Regions from separate parts of the Homo sapiens genome. Here regions 1, 2, 4 and 5 are each linked to region 3. The links come from fine-mapping of genetic effects on gene expression. A gene starts in region 3. Each other region holds a variant in brackets. All regions are shown on one strand. Distances are between the middles of the regions.

Region 1 (5,106 bases), 76 kb before region 3:
TGATAATATGTATGTTATCTGCAAATGCAGGAGACACAGTAACCCCAAAGGTGTATACCATTCATTAGCTAGAGGAGATCAAACACCCAAAAACTAACACATGCCATCAGAGTCTCTGCCTGAGACCAGTCATAGATCACTTGCAGTACTAGTGTCAAACAGAGTTAGGCAAACGGGGTTGTTAAATTGTGAAATGGTGTTGTGCAGTACCCCTGCCTGAGTCTGTTCTTGTATAAGAAATGCAACCTGTTTCACCTCTAGGTGTGCAACACTGTCACACAACGTCTGCCGACCTTGTAAGTATAGTGTCACACAACATCTGCCGACCTTGTAAGTACAGGTGGGTTTTGGCAACATACCTGGCCAACAGTTATAGAAGCTACTAACAGAAGTCACAAAAAATGTCTAACTAAGGGCTAGGCATGGTGGCTTATACCTGTAATCCCAGCACTTTGGGAAGCTGAGGTGGGAGGATTAGTTGAGCCCAGGAGTTCAAGACCAGCCTGGGTAACATGGTGGAACCCCATCTCTACAGAAAAATTAGCCAGGTATACTTCCAGCTACTTAGGAGTTTAAGGTGGCAGAATCAATTAAGCACAGGAGTTCGAGGCTGCAGTGAGCCACGATCGCATCACAGCACTTCAGCCTTGGGGACAGAGCAAGACCCTGTCTCGAAAAGAAAAAAAGTCCAACTGACATGTGGACTTAATTACCCCACCCTGATAAAGAAACAACTAGAATTCACGCAAAAGGTCCAAAAGCCGTTGCAGTGATTGTAATTCTAATCTTTCAGCCATAGGTAACATGGACTCCAAACCCCAGTTGAGGAACTTGTTTACCAGAGCTCTTCTGCAGTCTGGAGCTATGATACTTGGTCCTCCATTTCTAGCAAACCCGTAAATATTGGAGGCTCTTCTCTTTTCCAGCATAATCATCTGGGGTACATGGTTAGGGATCCCTTGGAAGAGAGTAAAGGGGACTGAGCCCACCTGTATTTCTCCTTGAGTTTGAAAGGGCTCAGATTAGGAACAAAGAAGCTTGGCTTCTAGAGTTGACTCAAACTCACAAAGTGGAGCTGATGACTAGGAGCATTCCCACCAGCAATGCCACTTCCAGAGTCAAGATAATGCAGAGTATCTCCCTGTCTCTATGTCCTTTAGATCTTATCAGTTTGTGTGGATGAAGCTCAATAGCCCTCGTCCTCCCCAGGGACCTTCTTCACCTAATCTTCTGGTGACTCCACCTCTCCCAATAATTATTCAAGTCTGTAAACTATTCAGTATCATGTTTCATCTCACATGTCCCTTTTCCACAGTCTCAGTGGGTCTTTTAACTTTTTGAATAGGACTACATTCCCACACTCAAGAATTAGGCCGTCTCTCAATTTCTGTCTTATCATTCCTTCTGTTTATGAGCAATATCACATTTATTGGTGTGAGGGAGATTGCCTGAGTTCAGCCTATCGGTCTACTCCTTCTTTTGTTCCTTCTTTCTTTATATTTTGGGCAGAAACCTGTGCATCTCATGAGACCCTGTCTCTTTCCATTTCCGCCTCTGCTGTGGGGCTTGTATGACCTAAAAAGAACTATTTCATGTCCAACATTGCCTCCCAGATGAAGGAATAAGTCAAAGCAGTTGTCCACTTAGGAGGACCTGCTCTGATTCGGTCATCCAACATTCTCTGCACCAAGAGCATGTTGTCAGGGATTCTCTACTCAAACCCTGGATTTTCTTATAATTACGCTAACACAGCCAGTTGTCTCAGAGTGTGTTAGAGTAACTACACTATCTGTGGATCTAGTCCATTTCACATTCAAGTGGCAGGAAAATCACCCCAATGGTAATACGTATTACCCATGCTACCAAGCATCCAGTTTAGAAGCAGGGTTACAACATCAGCCCCAGTGTTATTAGTCAACCCAGACTGCTCATTGTTTAACCAGGTCATGTGTTTCCTTTTACTCAGCTTCCCTTAACAACACTGTTGTCTCCTAACCATGCAAATTAGCAGGCCAAGCCTCTACTATCCCTACAGTAGTGGA[G/C]CTAATAAGAGTCTTGCTCTTGCTCTGTATAATGCTGGATCTCCTCCTGCTGGTGTTCTCACTCAGGCTCCTGTACACCGTGCCTCACAGTAACTGGCTTCACATACAGCAGGACCAGTTGCCTCATATTACAGATAAACAGTGGGAATTTGCCCCACCTTCCCTTCTAGAGAGACTACCACACCCTTTCTAGTGCACCCTACCAATTTGTACTCCTGAAAATCTCTAAGCTGATAAGGAGAAGAGATAGAACTTAATTTCAAGCCACTGGAAACCCTCTTTACCACTTGAGGGCTTCTGCCATTCTCAGGCGTAGCTACTGAGACCATCCTAACTGCCAAGTGAATTACCACTGTCCCCAGGAGAAATTCTTTGACCCATGGGTTCTCCTCTTTCAGAAAGCCATGACATCGGGACTTTGTTGGGCACCAACTGTAGTACAAGATGGTTACACAAACCACTAACACACATGGTGCTAATAGCAGCAAAGTTTGTTAGTGAGAGTAACCTACAAGCAAAGAAGTAACCGTACACAGGATTCCCAGCCTCCATAATGATTCCACAGGACTTGGACATGCAGCAAGAGCACTCCAAGAGACGAAACACTGTACCCCACACCTTGCCCTGTATGCATTAGTGTGAGAAAGAGTAGAAAGCACTTAATTTCTGAGTAATGATAAACATTATCAAGGGACCTTTGGGTTTAGAAACAGTGCTAGGACATATGCATATCAAGGGTCAAAGTCTACATAGGGAGGACGCTGAGAACAGTGTTGACCTCAGCTGAAGGCCTTCTGACCTGCTGCTGCCTCTCAGGGAAGTGGGAAAGAAGAAAGCCCCTATGGCCTTCCAGCCAAAACCAAGGATTTTTTTTTCCAGTCCAGTTCACTGTTTTTTTTTAATTTGTTTGTTTTTTGTTTTGTTTTCTTTTGTTTCATTGTACTTTAAGTTCTGAGATACAAGTGTAGAACATACAGGTTTGTTACATAGGTATTCACTTGCCATGGTGGTTTGCTGCACCCATCAACCCGTCATCTACATTAGGTATTTCTCCTAATGCTATCCCTCCCCCAGACCCTCACCCCCCCGACAGGCCCCAGTGTGTGTTGTTCCCCTCCCTATGTCCATGTGTTCTCATCGTTCAACGCCCACTTATGAGTGAGAACTTGTGGTGTTTGGTTTTCTGTTCCTGTGTTAGTTTGCTAAGAATGATGGTTTCCAGCTTCATCCATGTCCCTGCAAAGGACATGAACTCATCCTTTTTTATGGCTGCATAGTATTCCATGGTGTATATGTGCCACATTTTCTTTATCTAGTCTATCATTTATGGGCATTTGAGTTGGTTCCAAGTCTTTGCTATTGTGAACAGTGCTGCAATAAACATACATGTGCATGTGTCTTTATAGTAGAATGATATATAATCCTTTGGATATATACCCAGTAATGGGATTGATTGCTGGGTCAAATTGTATTTCTGGTTGTAGATCCTTGAGGAATCACCACACTGTCTTCCACAATGGTTGAACTAATGTACACTACCACCAACAGTGTAAAAGCGTTCCTATTTCTCCACAGCCTCGCCAGCATCTGTTGTTTCCTGACTTTTTAATGATTGCCATTCTAACTGGCATGAGATGGTATCTCATTGTGGTTTTGATTTGCATTTCTCTAATGACCCATGATGATGAGCTTTTTTTCATATGTTTGTTGGCTGCATCAATGTCTTCTTTTGAGAAGTGTCTATTCATATCCTTCACCCACTTTTTGATGGGGTTGTTTATATTTTCTTGTAAATTTGTTTAAGTTCTTTGTAGATTCTGGATACTAGCGCTTTGTCAGATGGCTAGATTGCAAAAATCTTCTCCCATTCTGTAAGCTGCCTGTTCACTCTGATGATAGTTTCTTTTGCTGTGCAGAAGTTCTTTAGTTTAATTAGATCCCATTTGTCAATTTTGGCTTTTGTTGCCATTGCTTTTAGTGTTTTAGTTACCAAGTCCTTGCCCATGCCTATGTCCTGAATGGTATTGCCTAGGTTTTGTTCTAGGGTTTTTATGGTTTTAGGTCTGACGTTTAAGTCTTCAATCCATCTTGAGTTAATTTTCGTATAAGGTGTAAGGAAGGGGTCCAGTTTCAGTTTTCTGCATATGACTAGCCAGTTTTCCCAACACCATTTATTAAACAGGGAATCCTTTCCCCATTGCTTGTTTTTCTCAGGTTTGTCAAAGATCACATGGTTGTAGATGTGTGGCATTATTTCTGAGGCCTCTGTTCTGTTCCACTGTTCTATATATCTGTTTTGGTACCAGTACCATACTGTTTTAGTTACTGTAGCCTTGTAGCATAGTTTGAAGTCAGGTAGTGTGATGCCTCCAGCTTTGTTCTTTCTGCTTAGGGTTGTCTTGGCTATATGGGACCTTTTTTTGGTTCCATATGAAATTTAAAGTAGTTTTTTTCTAATTCTGTGAAGAAAGTGGTAGCTTGATGGGGACAGCATTGAATCTATAAATTACTTTGGGCAATATGGCCATTTTCACAATATTGATTCTTCTATCCATGAGCATGGAATGTTTTTCATTTGTTTGTGTCCTCTCTTATTTCCTTGAGCAGTGGTTTATAGTTCTCCTTGAAGAGGTCCTTCACATCCCTTGTAAGTTGGATTCCTAGGTATTTTATTTTCTTTGTAGCAATTGTGAATGGGAGTTCACTCATGATTTGGCTCTCTGTTTGTCTATTATTGGTGGATAGGAATGCTTGTGATTTTTGCACATTGATTTTGTATCCTGAGACTGCTGAAATAACTTACCAGCTTAAGGAGATTTTGGGCTGAGACGATGGGATTTTCTAAATATACAATCATGTCATCTGCAAACAGAGACAATTTGACTTCCTCTCTTCCTATTTGAATGACCTTTATTTCATTCTTTTACCTGATTGCCCCGGCCAGAACTTCCAATACTATGTTGAATAGGATTGGTAAGAAAGGGCATCCTTGTCTTGTGCCAGTATTCAAAGGGAATGCTTCCAGCTTTTGCCCATTCTGTATGATATTGGCCGTGGGTTTGTC
Region 2 (5,106 bases), 73 kb after region 3:
GCGGAACAACAGGAAAGCTTGCACCCTGCTAGCAGAAAGGTGCATGGTGGCTGCTCTGGAAAACAGGCTGACGCTACGAGTAAGTTGAAGACAGGTGTATCTCCCCACCCAGCAACCCACTTGCAGAGATGCACCCTGCAGGCACTCTCAAGGTGTACCAGAAACACAAGCAAAAATGCTCACCGCACCCCGGGCTGCAAACAATCCAAACAACCATCATCATCATCATTAGCAAGCTTCAAGAAAGTGGCATAGTCAATCAGCAGAACACTACATGTCTACAAGAATAAACACCATGTGGCTAAACACGACTGACCAAGTCAGTCTCACAAACTTAACAAGGATTGAAAGAAACCAAACCCAAAAGAAAACACACAGAGGATTTTGTTCATACATAGTTCAAAAGCAGAGTGCCACGACAGCCATCTCGGGAGAGGGTCATCTGTGGGCTTCCGATTAGCAAGGGCGGGACCTGGTTTGTCTCCTGCGCACCTTCTGAGCTCGGGTCTCAGAGCTAAGCCCCGGGAGCCAAGGGCTCAGTGATGCTGGTGTCTGCACACACCCCTTGGTCTGCCTGTCTTCTTTGACACCCCTCAGAGCAGCTAACAGATGCCTGCTTCCTCTGGTGCCTACAATAATGCCCAGGGAAGCTGGGAGTCTGTTGCTGATTTGTGACCTCCTCTGGTCACACCAGTCAGCATGGCCATGGTTTAACCTCCAGGAGCCACATAAACAAAAGGCGGCAAACCTGTTATCTCCCTGCAAGAAACTAGCTCTCCTACTGAACAGTCTCTACCGACTGTCCTTAGGGCCATGGTGCAGTGTGGCTGGCAACCTCACCTCTTCACATGTCACAGAGAGGTAGCCACATCTCTCCCGTGGATCACCTGAGCTCTGCGTTCTATCTGGGGCCTCGTCACCGGAAAGTGAGGGAGTAAGCGTGGGCAGCAGGCAGTCCTGGTCTTGTGGACCTAAGAATGTAAGGGTTAGGTCCAGGATGACCATGGGGAAAGCATCCCCTTCTCCATCCTTCCAGAACGGTAAGGCAGCTCTCACTTCGCTTCTGGTCCTCAGTCAGTGTGGACCTCAGCAGTGAGGGGAACTTCTTCAGTGGCCTCATCACAGACCAGCCCCTCATAAGAGTTTACATGGCAGCCCAGGGAGCTCAGGGCCAGTCTGTAGGCCTGGCTGATTCCGAATGTTCCACGCCCTATTCCTCACCACCCAGATGATGGCCTGTTTCTTTTCAGAAAGGAGGCCACCACATTTCTCCAGAAAAATGCATTTAAAGGGCTCTGTCCTGTTGGATGTCCTCAAGCCTCTTAATCTATGTTTGCAGCAGACAGCACTAAAGCGGTGGTGGACCAGAGGAGGTAACAAGTCAGGAGCTGATTCCCAGCTCCCCAGGCCTTATCTGAGCACCAGAGGGAGCAGGCATCTGCCAGCTGTCAAGATGCTCTGACACCTGATGCTACAATATTTTTCCAAGAGGCGTAACAACTTCAGTTCTCTGTGGTAGAACAGTCCTTCACATGCACTGGGACATAGTCCCTTGCAGCTCTCCAAGGAGGTAGCTGGTAAGCCGAGCCAAGGTCCTCATGAGAAGTCAGTGCTGGTACCAACATGTGTGTTCAGTGAGTCACCCTAGTGGAGGGCACAGGGGGCCTGTGCACCATGGTTCTCAGCAGGTGAGAGACTGCTCAGCTCTGGAGTCCCAAGGTCCAGGATGTAACACAAGACAAGACACCTGAAGATATGATCTAGTCCCAGTTGCTATGTATGACCTTGGCAAATCCTCAAGGTCTGTGAGCTTCAGTTTTCCCCTGCAGAAAGCTAAAGAGTTGAGCCTGACCAGAGTTATGAAGAGGCCAAAGTTTCCGCAAATGCTTAGTCCAAATTTCATTTTTTAAATGCAGCTTATTTAAAAATTTGTAACAAACACAATACCCACCCCCCACCCAACCACCACAACATTTGCTGTTACTAAATTCCCCCTTTTTTTTTTTTTTTTTGAGACAGGATCTTGCTCTGTTGCCCAGGCTGGAGTGCAGTGGTGCAATCTTGGCTCACTGTAACCTCCACCTCCCAGGTTCAGGGATTCTCCTGCCTCAGCCTCCCAAGTAGCTGGGATTACAGGCACGAGCCCCCAAGCCCGGCTGATTTTTATATTTTTAGTAGAGATGGGGTTTCACCATGTTGGCCAGGCTGGTCTCGAACTCCTGACCTCAGGTGATCTGCCCACCTTAGCCTCCCAAAGTGCTGGGATTACAGGTGCGAGCCACTGTGCCCGGCC[G/A]CTGTTACTAAATTCTAATACCTTGGGGCCCAGCGCATTACCATGGGTGCCCAGAATAACTTATCACTGGGCAGTCTCATAATAGTGCTTTTCCTGTCATCTTTCTAGTCAGATAATTTCTTAGAACTACAGGAAGAGCCGTTCTTAACAAATATTGCCATCTGCATCACTGATCTGGATGACGAAGTGGATTCTTTCAAGACAGTGCAACCAGAACAAAATACTGAAGGGCAGGGATGCTACAGCTGATCTGGACTGCAGGTACCATTCATATTTGTGTTATGCAAACAGGCCCATTGCCCTTACTGAGCAGACATTTAAAGTTCATCTCAGCGTGTCGGTATGTAAAACTGACATAAATACCATTAGCAGAATGGTATTTATGTCAGTTTTACATACCGAGGCACTGAGACAGAGGTGGGGGGGTTCCCATACCTAAAATGTTTGGAAACCAGGGTCCAATGTGATCCTATCTATACTCTGAGAATCTACACAAACCAGTTCTGGTCCCTGCTGTCCCAGGAATTCTCGCTGTAGTCTCTTCCTGCCACGATGATAACGTTAATGATTCCTACTAACATAAGGCTTGGGGTACTTTTATATTGTGAGAGACCAGAATATGCCACCCCAAAATATGCCTTTTCGCATAAAGATTTTGAGTTGATTATTTTGAGAGACTGCAGACACAGGAGATATCCCAAAAACAGATAAGTTATCCTCTTGTAAGACAAAATTCATGGGTGTCTTCCTTTCTATTACCAAGAAGAGAAGGATGACTACATCACTAGAGATTTCTATCAGTGGAGAATCTGGCTCTCAAACCTTACCTTTGTTAACTGCTTTTCTTGGGTACCTCCCCATAACTGGCCTTCCCCAAACCATTTATCTTTGTTTCAGGGAAATTTTTTTTTTTTTTTTTTTTTTGAGACGGTGTCTCGCCCTGTCACCCAGGCTGGAGTGCAGTAGCACAATCTCGGCTCACTGCAACCTCCGCCTCTTGGGTTCACGCCATTTTCCTGCCTCAGCCTCCTGGGTAGCTAGGATTACAGCATGTGCCACCACGCCTGGCTAATTTTTGTATTTTTAGTAGAGACAGGGTTTCACCATGTTGGCCAGGATGGTCTCCAACTCTTGACCTCGTGGATCTGCCTGCCTTGGCCTTCCAAAGTGCTGGGATTACAGGCGTGAACCACCATGCCCAGCCGGGATGATGGTTTTTAAGCCTAAAATCTAAGCCACCTCTTGGACACTGACTCATTTCTCTGGGTATCTCCCATGGATACAACACAAGATATACCTACTATTCAACTTCTGTTTGTGTTAATCTGTCTTTCGTTGCTGCAGTCTGTCCCAAGAACTGTGAAGGGTAGGGATGAAGTGATTTCTTCCTCTCCTACAATATACATTTTCTGGATTGATTTGATCGTGACCCTGAACACGCATGATTCTTACGCTAGAAGATCTGGGTATTGAACCACTACCTGGATCTGCTGCTGCTCTGCCATTTTCCTCTAGGCAAGGAACAACTCCCTCTTCCTCCTCTCCCTGGTTGACCAGAAGAAGGAATGAATCAAAACAAAGACGCATGGGCTCCACGCAGAGGCAGGGCCTTTGCATGATGCCATGCAAAGGAATAAACACAGGACTCTTCCATTTGATGAGATCTGAAGCAGCCAATCCACCACAGCATTCTGCTCTTTTATTTGGTAAACAAGCTTCATCTACATTATAAACGGGGCCTTTAAATCAGGATTTCTGTTAAAGCTGCTACTGAATTTTTGCAACAGCAGCACATCAGAAATGACAGTCCAGCACTAAAAATAGGGACCTCTGTTTCACAGGGGCATCAGAGAAACCACAAGTTGGAGCAACTGACAAGGGGCGAGTGCGCCACCCCGGGCATGGCAACTGGGTTGGACCCTGTCCTCCTTTTCCTTCACAACCCTTGCTATGTATTTGGTGACTCCCTCTTGAGGCAACTAAAAACCTGTAAGCACAGGCAGACTATGCTCAGGCTTAAAACAGATCACGTTCTACACACAAATTCCTGACAAGGCTCTCGTTTACAAATGATGCAGACAGACAACAAGATCTGTGTTTTCCTTTTTCTAAGCAGATTGAGTATTCTGGGGCCATCACGGCGAACTCCTGAGGCTCTGCCATTTTCAGGGGATCTCAAGTTTTAGCAGCCACAGGGACTTACGAACACAAGAGAGACTGAAGAATAGCCACCCACATGCTTAAGCAAACAGAACCATGGCTAAATTATGCTCAGGAATTCCAGCTATTCTGCTGCAAAGGCCGACCTCTGGTGCTGCCCACCAGGCTCCAGTGAGGGTTAATGCACCCCACCTGACCCGAAGGAAAAGAGGGCAGGGGAGGGCAGGAGAAGAGAATGCCTTGCTATGGGCAGTACCTTGCCTTCTGGCCAATGAAATACAAAGATGGAGAAAAAAAGACTTGGTATGAAATGGGAGCTCAAAAATCAACGTGAACAGATGGCACTTTTTAGGACTCAAATTGGACACAATTTCTTCTAGTTGTAAAATCCTTAACAAGATGGCATTTGTGAATTAGATTCCCATGAAAGCACATACCTCAGCAACACTGTCCTGTCTTGAGAAGGCAAGTAGGTTTGTAATGGCAGACGTTCATTTTAAGAACAACCTGACTGGCCAGGTGCAGTGGCTCATGCCTGTAATCCCAGCACTTTGGGAGGCTGTGGCGGGCAAGTCACCTGAGGTCAGGAGTTCAAGACCAGCCTGGCCAACATGGTGAAACCCTGCCTCTACTAAAAATACAAAAATTAGCCG
Region 3 (5,106 bases):
TAGAGGCTGAGGCGGGTGGATAACTTGAGGTCAGGAGTTCGAGACCAGCCTGGCCAACATGGTGAAACCCTGTTTCTACTAAAAATACATAAAGTCAGCCGGGCGCGGTGGCGGGCGCCTGTAATCCCAGCTACTTGGGAGTCTGAGGCACGAGAATCACTTGAACCTGGGAGGTAGAGGTTGCAATGAGCCAAGATCCTGCCACTGCATTCCAGCCTGGGCGACAGAGCAAGACTCCATCTCACAAACAAACAAAAAAACCCACACACAAATTAGTGTAGATAAAAAAGGTATCCCTCAAGTTTGACAAGAAAGTGGAGAGACAAACACAACTACATATTGCTGAGAGTGTAAACTGTACAACCTCTCTGAAGAGCAGTATGGTAATACTTATTAAAACTGTCTACACCTTTATGCCCAGTGATTCCATTTCCTTTTTTTTCTTTTGTGAGACAAAGTCTCACTCTATCCCCCAGACTGGAAGTGGAATGGGGAGATCTCTGCCCACTGCAACCTCAGCCTCCTGGGTTCAAGAGATTCTCCTGTCTCAGCCTCCTGAGTAGCTGGGATTACAGGTGCGTGCCACCATGCCTGGCTAATTTTTTTCTATTTTTAGTAGAGATGGGGTTTCACCACGTTGGCCAGGCTGGTCTTGAACTCCTGACCTCAGGTGATCCACCCAGCTTGGCCTCCCAAAGTGCTGGGATTACAGGCGTGAGCCACCGCACCTGGCCTCCATTTCAATTTTTATCCTAAGTACATATTCATAAATATGGAAAAAGATTTATGTACATAACGTGGTAATATATTGAGGCTAAAAGAAAAAGATTTAGGTACAAAGATATTTAATCCAGCATTATCTACACTAAGATCAAAATTGTTGAAACCATCCAGCAACAGGGAAAATGTTAAATAATTTATGGTATGTTTATATGTAGACCATTATGTAGAAAAAAAAGCTAATGAAATTTTAGACATGGGAACAGCTCATGACACAAGTTTGTTTAAAAAGGCAGTTTCCAGGACTTTTTGTAAAATTAGTTTTTCTGAAAGACTGAGAGAAAATGTTATCTCTGAGTGGGTGATCTCTGAGGGGTGTAATTATTGACTATTTATTTTCCTGTTATATATTCTGTGTTTCCTACAGAGAGCTCTATTATTTATACAATCAAAAACTTGTTTTTAGAAAAATACTGTTTTGGCAATACTTTGGAATGGAATTTGGTGTTCAAAGTCTCAATCATGATGCACTCCGCTAATTTTAAAAAATTAACAAGAACTTCACAAAATCCTAATTTTTAATCTTCCCTTTCCCCTTAATCTTTTTCATTGCAAATAGTTTCCCACGGTCTCAATTTCATCTTTAAATGTGAGCATTTTAGGTCATTACTCTTCAAATGTAACTTCGGTCTCCACAGGCTGATATATTTTTAATGTTTCCTCATGGATTAAAAATAAAAGCTCTCTGTATCTTTGATTTTCATCTGAACATAGTCCCACACTATGTTGTGCATTTAGTTAACAAGTGGTAATTTGCTCAGGAACTTTTTTTTTTCTGGATAATTTTTATCTCAAAAAGCACTGGCAGGGCCACTTTGTAGTCAATGACACGTGGAAACCAGTCTACCGTGAGCCAGTGGGACGCACTGGGAAAGGCTGAAGAAAAGGCGCCCGGGGTTCCAGTGAGCTCAGGATACCCACCCAACGGCAGGGCTGGGGCCCGGGGCAGGCAGCCTGCCCGGGAGAGACCCCTAGGGGAACCCGAATGAGGAGGCGAGGGCAGAAGACGCCAAGTCACGGACCGCCCAGGGTGGCCGAAATAGAGAAGGCCAATCTGGGAGACCGGCCTCGGAGTACACAGTGCAGGGTGGAGAACTGGAGAAAGAGGTAAAAACTTTCAGCAGGGATGGCCGAACATTCCATGCAACGCCCCTTTAAAACGACGTTTCAGGCGATCACTAGGCCTTGCGACCGCAGCTTTAGCAAAAACAGAAAGATTTGCGACGGAAGTCCCTTTCCAAGCCTGAAATCGCCTTGACCCTAGGAGCCAGAAGCTGGGGAGGAACTCGCAGTCCGGGCGGAAGAGCGCGCATGCGCCGCCTCAGGGGCCGGTCCCGGGGGCGGGGCCTGTTCCCTCCGCCCTGGGTCTCCACAGGCTTTCGCGGGGCGGGGCCTACTCCCTCCGCTCTGGGTCACAGCGGGCGTTCGGGGGGCGGGGCCTGTTCCCTCCGCTCTGGGTCCCCGCGGGCGTTCGGGGGCGGGGCCTGTTCCCTCTGCTCTGGGTCTCCGCCGGCGCCCGCCCCGCCAGCCTCACCTGCGCGGCACGTGACCCGCACCGCCCGTGGGCACCTTGAAGGCGGATCCCGCGCGCCCCCGCTCCTGCAGGTGAGAGCGGCCGCGCCCACGGGCCGGCTCAGCGGCGGTGGCGGCAGGTGGGGAAGCGCGGCTGGGCCTGCTCGCGCGGGGCGTCTGAGCCCTCCATTTCCCGGTTCTAACCGCGCAGCAGGGCCCAACCGGGACCTTGAGTGCGGCGAGGCGTGGTTCGTGCACCCTTGGCCCGGGGCTAGGGCGGGCGTGTCGGCGTCGGGTGGAAGGAAGCCCCTTGCGGGTGAGCTCCCTGCCTCCCAGGCCTCCCTCTTGCCTGGGGTCGCTCAGTCCACAGAGGCCCGGCCGCTCATAGAGGGGGGCACATTCCTGGTCTTTCGTGCATGGGGGGTGTAAGTGGCGGACTTTATTTTGGGAGCGCTGGACACCTTTCGGGTTTGCTTTGAATGAGATGGGATTCATGTGTTTACGCTGGCCAACTGACCTGGTGTGCCCGGGAATTTACTGTTCGCGTGACAGCCGAGGCCCGAGGGAACGCCCACACCGCCCCCCCTACCCCAAGGCAGGTCCTGGGTAGGCCTGAGAGCTTTTTCAAAACAAACTGTTCAGCTGACGGTGGCCTCGGTACTTCCCACTGAATGCCCTGGAACTTGCAAAGGGAGCTGAGTGCGGCAGAGGGCTGGGAGCCGGAGTTTGTTTGGAAAATCACCTGTGCGCACTTGCACAGCTGGGATTTGCGAGCTCTCCAGAAAGCACCACCTGGTCTTGATTGTTTTCAAGACAGCAGTACAGGGATAGTCTACCAGAAATTTTCGTGTTTGGTTTTTAGGCTTTATTGGAGTTTATGTTCGAAGAAAAGAAGCTGAACTTATCCTAAAAGGATAAGATGAAGATAGGGAAAGGCATGCTCCTTATGCCTTAATATTTGTTTGATTGATTGATGGGGTCCTGCTCTGTTGCCCAGGCTAGAGTGCAGTGGTGCAATCACAGCTCACCGCCGGCGTCACCTCCGGGGCTCAAGTGATGCTCCCGCCTCAGCTTCTCGAGTAGCTGGGACTACAGGTGCTCGCCACCACACCCAGCTAATTATTTTTATTTTTAGAGAGATGGGGTCTTGCCTTGTTGCCCAGACTGGTCTTAAACTCTTGGGCTCAAGTGTTCCACCCATCTCGGCCTCCCAAAATGCTGGGACTACAGGTGTGCACCATCGCGCCCAGACTTTTTTTTTCTTTGGTAGAGGTGTTTCCGTAAATAAGACTAGGACAAAGGATTATCAATTTTACAAGTCAAGGTTATACCTGCCCCTTTCAGAGCTGATTCTGCCTCACTTGACACCAGTTTTCCACCGTCAGTTATGTTTCTGTGTGTGTATATATATTTAGTCTTGGTAGATTTTCTAATTTCATATTACATATGGATTATTTAAAGGCTGGAACTCAGTTGGGCTCGAACAAAATAAATATTCAACTTATATTTATTTAAGTACATTAGGTGCCTGACAGTTTTACATGGTGTGGATACAGAAATGAGCAAGATGGCAAAGTACCTACTCCTTTGGGATTTACATCCTAGTCGGAGGAGACAATTTAACAAATATCCGATGCTGGTGGTAATTGCTGAGAATATAGAGTGATGTGCTAGCCTAGGGAGTGGCTACTTTAAATAGGGAAACCGTCTCTGAGGAGAGACACTGAAATTGAGATCTAAATGACAAATAGGATCCCAAGAGCAGAGGCAAGAACATTTCAGCTTGAGAAAACCGCTTTATGGAGACGGAAGACTGTTAGGCCAAGGAGGCTGGAAAGAAGAGAGGGACAGTGGCCAGAGTTGAGATCTGAGAAGTGGGCAGGCGGGAATTATATAGGATTTTGATTACATAAGACTGTATAGGATTTTGTTTGCCATGATGAGTTTGATTTTATTCTAAATTTGTAAATTTGTTCTTGAGCGTGGTCTGGCTAAGTTCATTTTTTGACACTTTCTTAGGTTTTCTTTTCTTGGTTTCCTTGATTCATTCAGAGGTGGTTCCTCACCTCAAGTCTTTTGTATAATTTTACTATTTATCAGACAGGATGACAAACCATGATAGGACAGCTTTCAACATGGTCACTTATTAATAAATTTTCAATGAGACTTTTGTTGTTTTTTTTTAAGAGCAAATCCTACAGTTTGATTTTAAAGGCGGAGCAGATAGCCTTGGCTCCATCCTGTGAAGGGAACAGCTAAGATAGTTTATTAGAATAGAAAATACTTTTTGAGTTGAGATGAGCAGATCTGGAGTGAGGTATTTTTGAGAACTCCTTATGAGAAAGGCTTCAAAGGTGAAATAAACACCTTAGGTTTTGAAAGCTCAACATCAAATCAGTTTGAAGTTATTTGACAGTTTGAAGGTTCTTTTTGAGGAGTTGTGGAAATTTATTGGTATGACAACGGTGGTTGTGAGAATCAGAGGTTATAGTCTTATAGATTTTTTTTTCTCCAAATTGTTCTTATCCCAGGTAACAGGTTGTCCTTTAAAACAGAGCTCCCTTGGCCGGGTACGGTGGCTCACGCTGGTTATCCCAGCACTTTGGGAGGCTGAGGTGGGCGGATCACTTGAGGCCAGGAGTTCAAGACCTGGCCAACATGGGGAAACCCGGTCTCTACTAAAAATACAAAAAATTAGCCGGGCGTGGTGGGACATGCCTGTAATCCCAGCTACTTGGGAGGCTGAGGTGGGAGAATCACTTGAACCCGCGAGGCGGGAGTTGCAGTGACCTGAGAACATGCCACTGCACTCAA
Region 4 (5,106 bases), 44 kb after region 3:
AGTTTGGAGTTGAACTGCTCTAATCCATGAACATGGTATCACTTTGCATTGCATTTGCTTAGGTCTTCTTTTCTGTTACAGGTTTTGCACATTTTGTCAAAATTATCTTTAGGTAGCTTATTTTAAAAAAATGTTTAAATTTTTACTTTTTAGAGATGAGGTCTCATTCTGTTGCCCAGGTTGGCATGCAGTGGCACAATCTTAACTCACTGCAGTTTCGACCTCCTGGGCTCAAGCAATCCTTCTGCCTCAGCCTGCCAAGTAGCTGGAACCACAAACACCTACTACCATGCCCGGCTAACTTGTAAAAATTTTTATTTTTGTAGAGATGGGGTCTCTCTGTTGCCCAGGCTGGTCCTGAACTTCTGGCTTCAAGCCATCCTCCTGCCTTGTCCTCCCAAAGTGCTGAGATAAGACGTGTGAGCCACTGAGCCTGGCCAGTAGCTCATATTTTTATAACTGTACAATTTGAGCAAATAGAAATACAATGTTATATATTGACTTTGTGACCTTGCTACATTGAGTAGTAAAGTCATCCTTCAGTAACCAACTCCCTCAACACAAAAGTCTGTGGATGCTCTCTACACACCACACATCCTGTCCCCTTTCAAATCATCTCTAGCTTACTTATGCCCAATACAATGTAAGTGCTTTGTAAATAGCTGTTATACTGTATTGGCTTTTTTTTTTTTTTTATCAGCAGTTAGTTGAATCAGTGGATGCAGACCCCTTAGATATGTAGGGCTGTTAGTAGCTTTTTAATAGAAGCTTAATAGACTTTCTTCATACATGAGTGTGTCATGTAAGTAATTTCTTTCTTTCCAATTTGTATGAATCCTTTTTTTCTTTTCATGTTATTTTGGGTCAGAATTTCCAGTACAATGTTGAAAAGAAGTGGTGTGTAGACATTGTTACCTTCACCTGCACTTAGAGGGAAAGCATTCAACTTTCACCATTAAGTATGATAATTAGCTCCCCTTATCAAGTTAGTTCCCTTCTATCTCCAGTTTGCTGAGAATTTTTAGGCTATTGACATATTTTTTTTCCTCCTTTAGACTATAATAGGATAGATTGCTTTATTAGTTTGCTATTGGATCATAACGTGTCTCTCTCTTGGGTCTGGCTTCTTAAACATGTTTGTGAGATTCATTTATATTGTTGCACAAAGCAGTTTAATTTTCATTTCTGTATAGAAGTCCATTGTGTGCATATAATTCATTCTGTTGATGGGCATTGTTGGCTGTTATATATAGTGCTGCTATGAACCTTTCTGTACATGTTTTTTTGGTTAACATATGTATGCATTTCTGTTGGCTATATTCCTAGGAGAAGGTATACATAAATAGCATTCCAGAGTGGTTAAATCACTTTCTATGCCCACCAGCAGTGTATAGGAATTCTAATTGCTTCACAGCCTTACTTTTTCCTATTGTCTATGTCTTTGATTTTAACCTTTCTGGTACCACACATTTATTTTTAAATTTTATTATTTTTAATTGATGCTGTTATAAGAAACAATAGAGACATATACCTTGTGCACTTCCCAGCTTTCCCCACTGGTAACATTTTTCAAAATGATACTATTATATCACAACCAGGATATTGACATTGCTAGAACCCACAGATCTTAGATTTCCCCAGTTTTACTTGTACTTATCTGTGTGTGTGAAGCTCTACACAGTCTTATCCTGTCTAGAGGTTTGTGATTACCTTACTACAGTTGAGACAGAGCACTTCCAAATTATAACTGGACCCATGATCTCCCTACTGTCTTCCGACCCCAGCCCCTGGAAACCACTAATTTGTCCACCATTTCAAAAATGGTATATCAGTGGAATCATGTAGTAAAACAGCTTTCAAGTGGCTTTTTTTTCTTAGCGTAATCCCTGTAGACTTACCACTCATTTATTTTTAACCTTCCTGTGTTACTTTGTTTTATAGGTGTTCCTATGGGAAACATACAGTTGAATTTTTTTAAAAAACCCAATCCTAATCATTAATAGCAGAATTGAACCAATTTCTTTCTATTGATGATTGATACATGTGTGGAGAAATTCCTGCCAGCATATAATTCTAATTTCTCTTCTACTTTCCTTTTCCCACCTACATTTTTCTGAATATTCAGAATACATCTTTTTTCAGTTTTTCCTTATGTATATTTTTATATCTATTGGACTAATTGCCTCAGAAAAATTTTCAGGACCTGTTTGTATTTCAGCATTCTTGTACCTCATTTTTATTCATACTTTTAAATTATGAAAGTAATACGGGCTTAGTGAAAAACAGACAAGCGATTTTAAAAATGGGGGCTCTTCTGTATTCTCATGTAGCAATGATACGGTTTAGGTGTATCCTTCTAGTTATTTTTCCATCCATTTATAGTGTCTTATAACAAATGAGTTATGATGCATACTTTATTTATTTTTGAGAGGGAGTTTCGCTCTTGTTGCCCAGACTGGAGTGCAATGGCACAATCTTGGCTCACTGCAACCTCTGCCTCCTCAGTTCAAGCGATTCTCCTGCCTCAGAGTAGCTGGGATTACAGGCATGTGCCACCACACCCAGCTAATTTTTTGTATTTTTAGTAGAGATGGGGTTTCACCTTGTTAGCCAGGATGGTCTCGATCTCCCAACCTCAGGTGATCTGCCCGCCTCCCAAAATGCTGGGATTACAGGTGTGAGCCACCTCACCCAGCCTGATGCATATTTTTAAAAAGTTGC[T/C]TTTGGCCGGGTGTGGTGGCTCACGCCTGTAATCCCAGCACTTTGGGAGGCCGAGGTGGGCAGATCATGAGGTCAGGAGAGCGAGACCATCCTGGCTAACACGGTAAAACCCCGTCTCTACTAAAAATATATTTAAAAAAAAATTAGCTGGGTGTGGTGGCGTGTGCCTGTAGTCCCAGCTGCTTGGGAGGCTGAGGCAGGAGAATGGCATGAACCCAGGAGGCAGAGCTTGCAGTGAGCCGAGATCGTGCCACTGCACTCCAGCCTGGGCGACAGAGCGAGACTCCATCTCTAAATAAATAAATAAAAGTTGCTTTTGTTTATCAACAGTGTATCAAACAGTGTATCAGAGAGAACACCATTTGTCAGTGTATTTGGAAGTACATGCTTCATTCTTATCTGCAGGATAGCATTTCCTGGTATGGATGTTACCGAAATTAACTCTTACTCTGTTTATAGGCATCTTTCTCCATTTTTTTGCCAGCTTACCACAAGTGACTCTATAGAAAACATCCAGCTACTTGGGAGGCTGAGGCAGGAGAATTGCTTGAACCCGGAAGGCAGAGGTTGCAGTGAGCCGAGATCATGCCACTGCACTCTAGCCCCGGCGACAATGTGAGACTCCATCTCAAAAAAAAAAAGAAAAAAGAAAACATCCCCAGTCATGTATTTACAGGTACATTTGTATACATTCCTAATACTGATAGGCACTGCTGTACCTTTTTAGTTATGTCCAATCTTTAAAAAAATTTGGCTTGGTCATTTTTGCCAATTTAGCTGTCAAGATAATTTTTGTTTTGAGACAGAGTCTCACTGTGTCACCCAGGCTGGAATGCAGTGACATGATCTCAGTTCACTGAGACCTCTACCTCCTGGGTTTAAGCGATTCTCCTGCCTCAGCCTCCCTAGTAGCTAGGATTATGGGCACGTGCCACCATGTCTGGCTAATTTTTGTATTTTTAGTAGAGACAGGGTTTTGCCACGTTGGCCAGGCTGGTCTTGAACTCCTGACCTCAAGTGATGTGCCCAGCCAAGATAAATTTTAGAATCATCTTATGTTACAACACAAAGTGGTATTTTGGTTAGAATTACAGAAAACCTAAAAACTAAATGTTAACTGGGGCTAAAGAGTAGAAATGCCTGCCCTGCACTGGTAGGTGTTCCAGCTAGATTATTTCTTTCAGGTCTATTCTGAACATATAAAAACCTCCTAAACCTGATCTGCCCACTCTGCTTTTTCTCTAGAGCCTTCACCGTGTTGGGTTATACTTGGTTATACTCTGACTTCAGGTATGCTTTTCAGTTGCAGTTCAAGTATACTGTCTAATTCCTATTTGTCATCGTAGACTTTTCTCTTTCATGCCTTTCACTAGTTCTGGAAATGTTTCAGCCATTCTCATCCCCTGCAGCTTCTCTCTTAAGCCTTTCTAGGTGTTTTTCTTGGACCTGCCTACCAGTTGTCTTTCCTGCAGTTGTCTAACTGCTGTTTACCTGTCCAATGAGATTTTTTTAAAATTTCAGTTACTATAGTTGTCCTTTCTGGAAGTCCCGTGTACAGGGAGAGTAAGAGCATTGTCTGTGGAGCCACACTGCTTGGGTTTAAATCCCAGGTCAGTTGCTCCCTACCTGTGTGACCCTGGAAAGTTATTCAGGCCATACCTCAGTTTCCTCATTTATAAAATAGGAATGCTAACAATATCTTACATCATAAGGTTGTTGTGCAGATTAAAGAAGTTAATATAGGTAATGGTGCCCTGGAACAGTCTAATGATATGCTGTTTGGCAATAAGCACTTCAAAAGACGGTCAGTGTCATTAATGCCAATCAAAACCATGTCATACCTGTTAAGATGGCTAGAATCAAAAAGTAGGAAAATACGTGTTGGCAAGGATGTGCAGAAAATGGAACCTTCATGTGTGGTTGCTGTTGAAAACAGTCTGGAAGCTCTTCAGAAAGTTATTACAATTCCACTCCTAAGTCTATAGGCAGGAGAATTGAAAACACATAATCATACAAAAAGTTGTACAGGCATAGCAGCATTATTAGTAGCCCAAAGGTGGAAACAACCCAGATGTCCATCAACAAGTGAATGCATGAAATGTCGTATAGCCATACAAGAGAATATCGAGCCATAAAAATGCACAAATATGTAGAGGATGGACCTTGGAAAAATTATGGTAAGTGCAAGAAGCCCTATACCAAAGGCTGCATAGTGTATGATTCCCATTATATGAAATGCCCAAAACAGGCAAATCCATAGAGACAAAGTCAGTTAGAGGTGGCCACACGCTGCGGGGGCAGTGACTGCTAATGGGTATGGGATTGATGGAGTGATACACAACTCTGAAATATACCAAGAACCACAAATGGGTGCATTTTATGGTG
Region 5 (5,098 bases), 27 kb after region 3:
GTGGTAGTCTAGGAAAGTGGGATTTCTTTTTAATTTTGGGGTTTTGTTTTTGATTTGTGGTACCAATGAGGATTTTATTTGAGACAGTGTAATGGGGGCCAGATGAGAGAACCATTTTCTTTGTAAGCTTAGCATGGCTGGGCTCTAGCCAGCTCCAGATGAAATTTTGGCTAATTATCCCTTTAGAAAAGTCAGGCTTAAGCAGAACTGGGCTCTAGGTCAATTAACCAAAAGCCAGTTCACCCAATGACCAGTTCATTTATTTAAAAAAAAAAAAAAAAAAAAAAAAAAAAAAAAATATATATATATATATATATATATATATATATATATATATATATATATATGAGTTTCAGTTGACCAGTTTTCCTTTCATCTCATCATATAATCTTGAAAAGTAATATTTAACATGCTCCTGACCCCCAGCCATGTAGCTATAGCTGGAGACCTGGTTTTCTTAGCTGTTATGAAAGTATTTTTGTGTGTGTGTGGATACTTTTTCAAATTGATGTCCCTGTGAGGGGACAAGCATGGGAAGTTATACTCTGCCATCTTGCTGACATCACTCTTTAGTTGTGTGTGTGTTTTAAGGATGCTCAAAATAGCAGAATTTGGCCTAAGAATTTCAGATATTTCACAAATAAGAACTTGTACCTTGAAGAACTTAGGATTAAATAAAAGTGTCTGTAAATTATGTCCATCACATACATACTCACGTAGTGTTAGCTGTCAATACTATTTCTCACTGTATTTTGGATGCAGTTTAACATTGAAAGCTATAATTCTTTTTGCATCTGGAATGCATTACAGTTATCCGTTGGTATCTGCAGGGGATTGGGTCCAGGACTGCTACCTTGGATACCAAAACCTGTGGATGCTCAAGTCCCTTATATAAAATGGTGTGATATTTGCATGTAACCTACACACATTATCCATATACTTTAAATCATCTCTAGATTACTTATAATACCTAATACAATGTAAGGGCTATGTAAATAGTTTTGCAGTATTTTTATTTGTATTATTTTTTGTTATTTTTTTCCTATTTCAATTTATTATGTTTTTCTTGAATATTTTGATTCATGGTTGAATTCACAGATAGGAAACCTGTGGATATGGAGGGCTGACAGTATATGCTTCCCAAGTTCTTGTGTTTTATTTTATATCTTTGAACTTTTAAAGTATAATTTCTATTTTGAACTTATGACAAAGATTCTGTAGTCAGTATCCATCATCAACATTGGAGGGTCTACTGAACAAGGAATTTTAAGCTAATAGGTGTGAATCCTGTGGTCAGACTGTGATCAGCTCCCTTAATAAGTACAAATATTAATGTTCTGCAGAGTGTGGTACCACTTGTATTGCAGATGTTTTTTCACCTTGTAGTGTATATTGTTCTGGCATAAAAGCCTGTTTCCAAGGGGGGTAGAAATGCCAGATAGAGGCATATTTATCCATTGTTTTAAATTACTCATTTTGTTATAATGTTGTATTTTTGTGTGTGTGATGTTCTTTTTCTTTGCTAGCATAACCCCAGATGTCTGCTTTTAATTTTTATACCATTACAAGGAATCATGTAGTCAACATCAAGTTTAGAATTATAATTTTCAAAAATGGATCATAATCAAAACATATATACATTGATTAGCATTTAAGGCACGCCTTATCAATGGTAAAGAATAGTGCTATCTGAAACAAAACCAAGTAGCAAATAATAGCTTTTCCTTGTGGTTTTTCCCATTCAGTTACTAACTTGTTATAGAGTCGTGTTTTATTTATATATCAGAGATGCTTGTTCTGTTCATGGTCATGTAGCGTAAATAGTATATACTATTGTTTTAATAAAGCTTATAATTTTCTAAATTTTATATATGGCATGTTGTTTTTTTTGAGATAGAGTCTCACTTTGCCACCCAGGCTGGAGTACAGTGGCATGATCTTGGCTCATTGTAACCTCCACCTCCCAGGTTCAGGCCATCCTCTTGCCTCAGCTTACCAAGGAGATGGGATTACAGGTGCACGCCACCATGCCCGGATAATTTTTTTCTGTATTTTTAGTAGACATGGGTTTCACCATGTTGGCCAGGCTGGTCTCAAACTCCTGACCTCATGATCCGCTCGAATCAACCTCCCAAAGTGCTGGGATTACAGGCGTGAGCCGCTGCGCCTGGCCACGTGTAGTTTTTTGAATTAAAGTTTTCATGCATATGAACAAAAGGATTGCATTCTAAATGTATGTTAATATCTGTCTTTTCTAGAAAAGTTACTAAAATTACTTAAAAATACTAATTACATAAATGCTGTACTTTGTTTTTATAGAACTTTTCACCTATAATTTATTTTCTTTTAAGGTCAGTGGATAAGTCTGTCATAGTATATGATACTGTAAGTATTTAAAAATCTTGTGGTGATCTATGAAAGTTATGTTTATTAGACTACTGAACTTCAAGTTAGGCCTGGTAGAAAAAGTATATATTTTTTCTGTTTAGTATGACTAAGAACATAAATATTTTCACAAATGCTAAAATAGTTACGCAAGTAAGATATTGGTTCTGCAACAAGCCCTTAAATATTTCAGTAATGATTTTAAGATGGATAGATTTTAAATGTGATCATAAACTATACATATTTAAAGAGCACCAGTGTTCAAAACATCACATACAATCAATTATTAAACTTTTACACCAGGCTTCCATAATAGCAAAGGATGAATGTTTACCCTAGGGTTTTTGGTGAATATGGTTGAAAGTGACCTACCATTCTTAGAGTCCTGGCTGGATTTAGGGAGAGGCATAAGAAAGGATAGGTTATCATGGACTTGGAAAATGGGAGTTTTTTACTGATCCATGTGTGGGTAAAGACCAAGTTGTGGCCGGGTGCAGTGGCTCACACCTGTAATCCCAGCATGTCAGAAGGCTGAAGCAGGCAGATGGCTTGAGTCCAGGAGTTTAAGACCAGCCTGGCCAACATGGTGAAACCTCATCTCTACCAAAAATACAAAAACTTAGCTGACCGTGGTGGCG[C/T]GTCCCTGTAGTCCCAGCTACTTGGGAGTCTGAGGCAAGAGGATGGCTTGAACCCCGGAGGTGGAGGTTGCAGTGAGCCGAGATTGTGCCACTGCACTCCAGCCTGGGCAACAGAGTGAGACCCTGTCTCAAAAATAAAGTAGTTGAAAAAAATATTGTCCAAAAGAAGAAAATGTTGAGTGGAGCCTCCTAATGCTGTAGCTATGCCAGCAAATAAATGGAGATATAAGTAATCAAAGGGTAGCGAGTTAAGCAAGTGATGTAAGCTAGTCTTCCACACAGAAGTTCGAGTCACTGAGTGTTCTGGCAGGAAATGGGAAAGAATACTCAAGCTAGGTGAGGTAAATCTTTAATATTTCTCATGAACGTTTCATGAGATTTTACATTCTCAAAAACAATTATAACACTAAATTGTCTCTGTAAAATATGTATGAGTCCCACTTAAATACACCTAAAATGTTAGATGGACACCTTAGTGTACTCTAAGGGACTAATTTATTTATTTGTTTTTTTGAGACAGACTCTTGCTCCTTTGCCCAGGCCGTAGTGCAGTGGTGCGATCTTGGCTCACTGCAACCTCTGCCTCCCGGGTTCAAGCAATTCTCCTGCCTTAGCCTCCCAAGTAGCTGGGACTACAGGCACGTGCCACCATGCCAGCTAATATTTTATATTTTTAATAGGGATGGGGTTTCACCGTGTTGGCCAGGCTGGTCTCAAACTCCTGAGCTCAAGTGATCCACCTGCCTCGGCCTCCCGACATGCTGGGATTATAGGTGTGAGCCACTGCACCCGGCCAAGGGACTAATTTCTACTCACTGGTCCTGCAATGTATACAAGTCAAATGCCATAGTCAAAAATATGAATTATTTCAGGTAATAGATGTTTAGGTTACTATTAGTAGGTTCAAACAGATGAGCAAATGCCAAGGGTCTACTGTACTAAAAATTTCTAAGGAGGTGGCTAGCAGACAATAATGCCGATAATTGACAAAAAGTGAAGTAAGTACCTGAGAATGCTGTTACAGATGCTGTTTCTGCTATTCATTGAGTAAAGTTTCAACTTATGTTAGTTACTAATAAATATTAATATATCCACTTAGTATACAACCCATTTATGTCAAATGAGTCTTCATCAGTAACTTTACTCTTACTTGAGTAAATTTAAAGCTGTTTTTATTGTTTTTCAGAATACTGAGAATATACTTCACACATTGACTCAGCACACCAGGTCTGAACTTAACCTCACCTTGTATTAATATAATTTAAAAATTAGTCAGAAGATACATAATAGTTGTTTTTATTAACTAGGTATGTCACAACTTGTGCTTTTGCACCTAATACCCTTTTACTTGCTACTGGTTCAATGGACAAAACAGTGAACATCTGGCAATTTGACCTGGAAACACTTTGCCAAGGTTAGTAAGGACATCATTTTTCACTCATTTCAACCCCACTCACCATTAGGGTCAGAAAGTTAGTAAATCGGGCTGGGCACCGCGGCTCACACCTGTAATCCCAGCACTTTGGGAGGCCAAGGTGGGTGTATCACTTGAGGTCAGAAGTTCGAGACCAGCCTGGCCAACATGGTGAAACCCTGTCTCTACTAAAAATACAAAAAAGTAGCTCAGCATGATGGTGCATGCTTATAATCCCCGCTACTCGGGAGGCTGAGGCAGGAGAATCGCTTGAACCTGGGAGGCGGAGGTTACAGTGACCTGAGATCGTGCCATTGCACTCCAGCCTGGGCGACAAGAGTGAAACTCCATCTCAAAAAAAAAAAAAAAAGTTAGTAAATCATTTGACAGGTTATTCACATTGCTTTTATCAATATAAAGTATACATCCAAATTTAATGTCATTTAAAAATAGTTTGGCCTGGCATGGTGGCTCACACTTATAATCCCAGCACTTTGGGAGGCCGAGGTGGATGGATTGCGTGAGCCCAGGAGTCTGAGATTAGCTTGGGCAACATGGTGAAACCCCATCTCTACAAAAAAGACAAAAATTAGCCACACATGGGGGTGTGCACTTGTGGCCCCAGCTACTTGGGATGCTGAGGTGGGAAGGATCACCTGAG

Evidence for each region. PIP is the estimated chance that this variant, and not a neighbour inherited with it, causes the effect.
Region 1: its variant is the best candidate, but not a certain one, in a credible set for the expression of WDSUB1 in whole blood (INTERVAL, PIP 0.65).
Region 2: its variant is the best candidate, but not a certain one, in a credible set for the expression of WDSUB1 in sun-exposed skin (GTEx, PIP 0.81).
Region 4: its variant is the best candidate, but not a certain one, in a credible set for the expression of WDSUB1 in subcutaneous fat (GTEx, PIP 0.79).
Region 5: its variant is the best candidate, but not a certain one, in a credible set for the expression of WDSUB1 in whole blood (TOPMed, PIP 0.50).

Annotation. Positions count from the first base shown.
Region 1 is chr2:159,359,978-159,365,083 of GRCh38, reverse strand. All of the region lies in intron 27 of BAZ2B (bromodomain adjacent to zinc finger domain 2B), which reads left to right. Among named protein-coding and RNA genes, the nearest start is that of WDSUB1, 76 kb to the right of the region's middle. The variant G/C (reference allele first, on the strand shown) is at 2,043.
Region 2 is chr2:159,211,031-159,216,136 of GRCh38, reverse strand. The region is part of intron 19 of TANC1 (tetratricopeptide repeat, ankyrin repeat and coiled-coil containing 1); the gene reads right to left. Among named protein-coding and RNA genes, the nearest start is that of MIR6888, 27 kb to the right of the region's middle. RefSeq lists an enhancer at 4,176-4,790. The variant G/A (reference allele first, on the strand shown) is at 2,294.
Region 3 is chr2:159,283,862-159,288,967 of GRCh38, reverse strand. WDSUB1 (WD repeat, sterile alpha motif and U-box domain containing 1) reads left to right here and starts at 2,265. Exons shown (of 11, transcript NM_001128212.3): 1 at 2,265-2,385. RefSeq lists silencers at 2,136-2,305, 1,992-2,431.
Region 4 is chr2:159,239,976-159,245,081 of GRCh38, reverse strand. All of the region lies in intron 10 of WDSUB1 (WD repeat, sterile alpha motif and U-box domain containing 1), which reads left to right. LOC105373716 (a long non-coding RNA gene) reads right to left here. Exons shown (of 2, transcript XR_002959431.1): 2 at 4,018-5,106. Among named protein-coding and RNA genes, the nearest start is that of WDSUB1, 44 kb to the left of the region's middle. The variant T/C (reference allele first, on the strand shown) is at 2,722.
Region 5 is chr2:159,257,097-159,262,194 of GRCh38, reverse strand. WDSUB1 (WD repeat, sterile alpha motif and U-box domain containing 1) reads left to right here. Exons shown (of 11, transcript NM_001128212.3): 6 at 2,352-2,385; 7 at 4,210-4,250; 8 at 4,331-4,437. Among named protein-coding and RNA genes, the nearest start is that of WDSUB1, 27 kb to the left of the region's middle. RefSeq lists a silencer at 4,929-5,097. The variant C/T (reference allele first, on the strand shown) is at 3,024.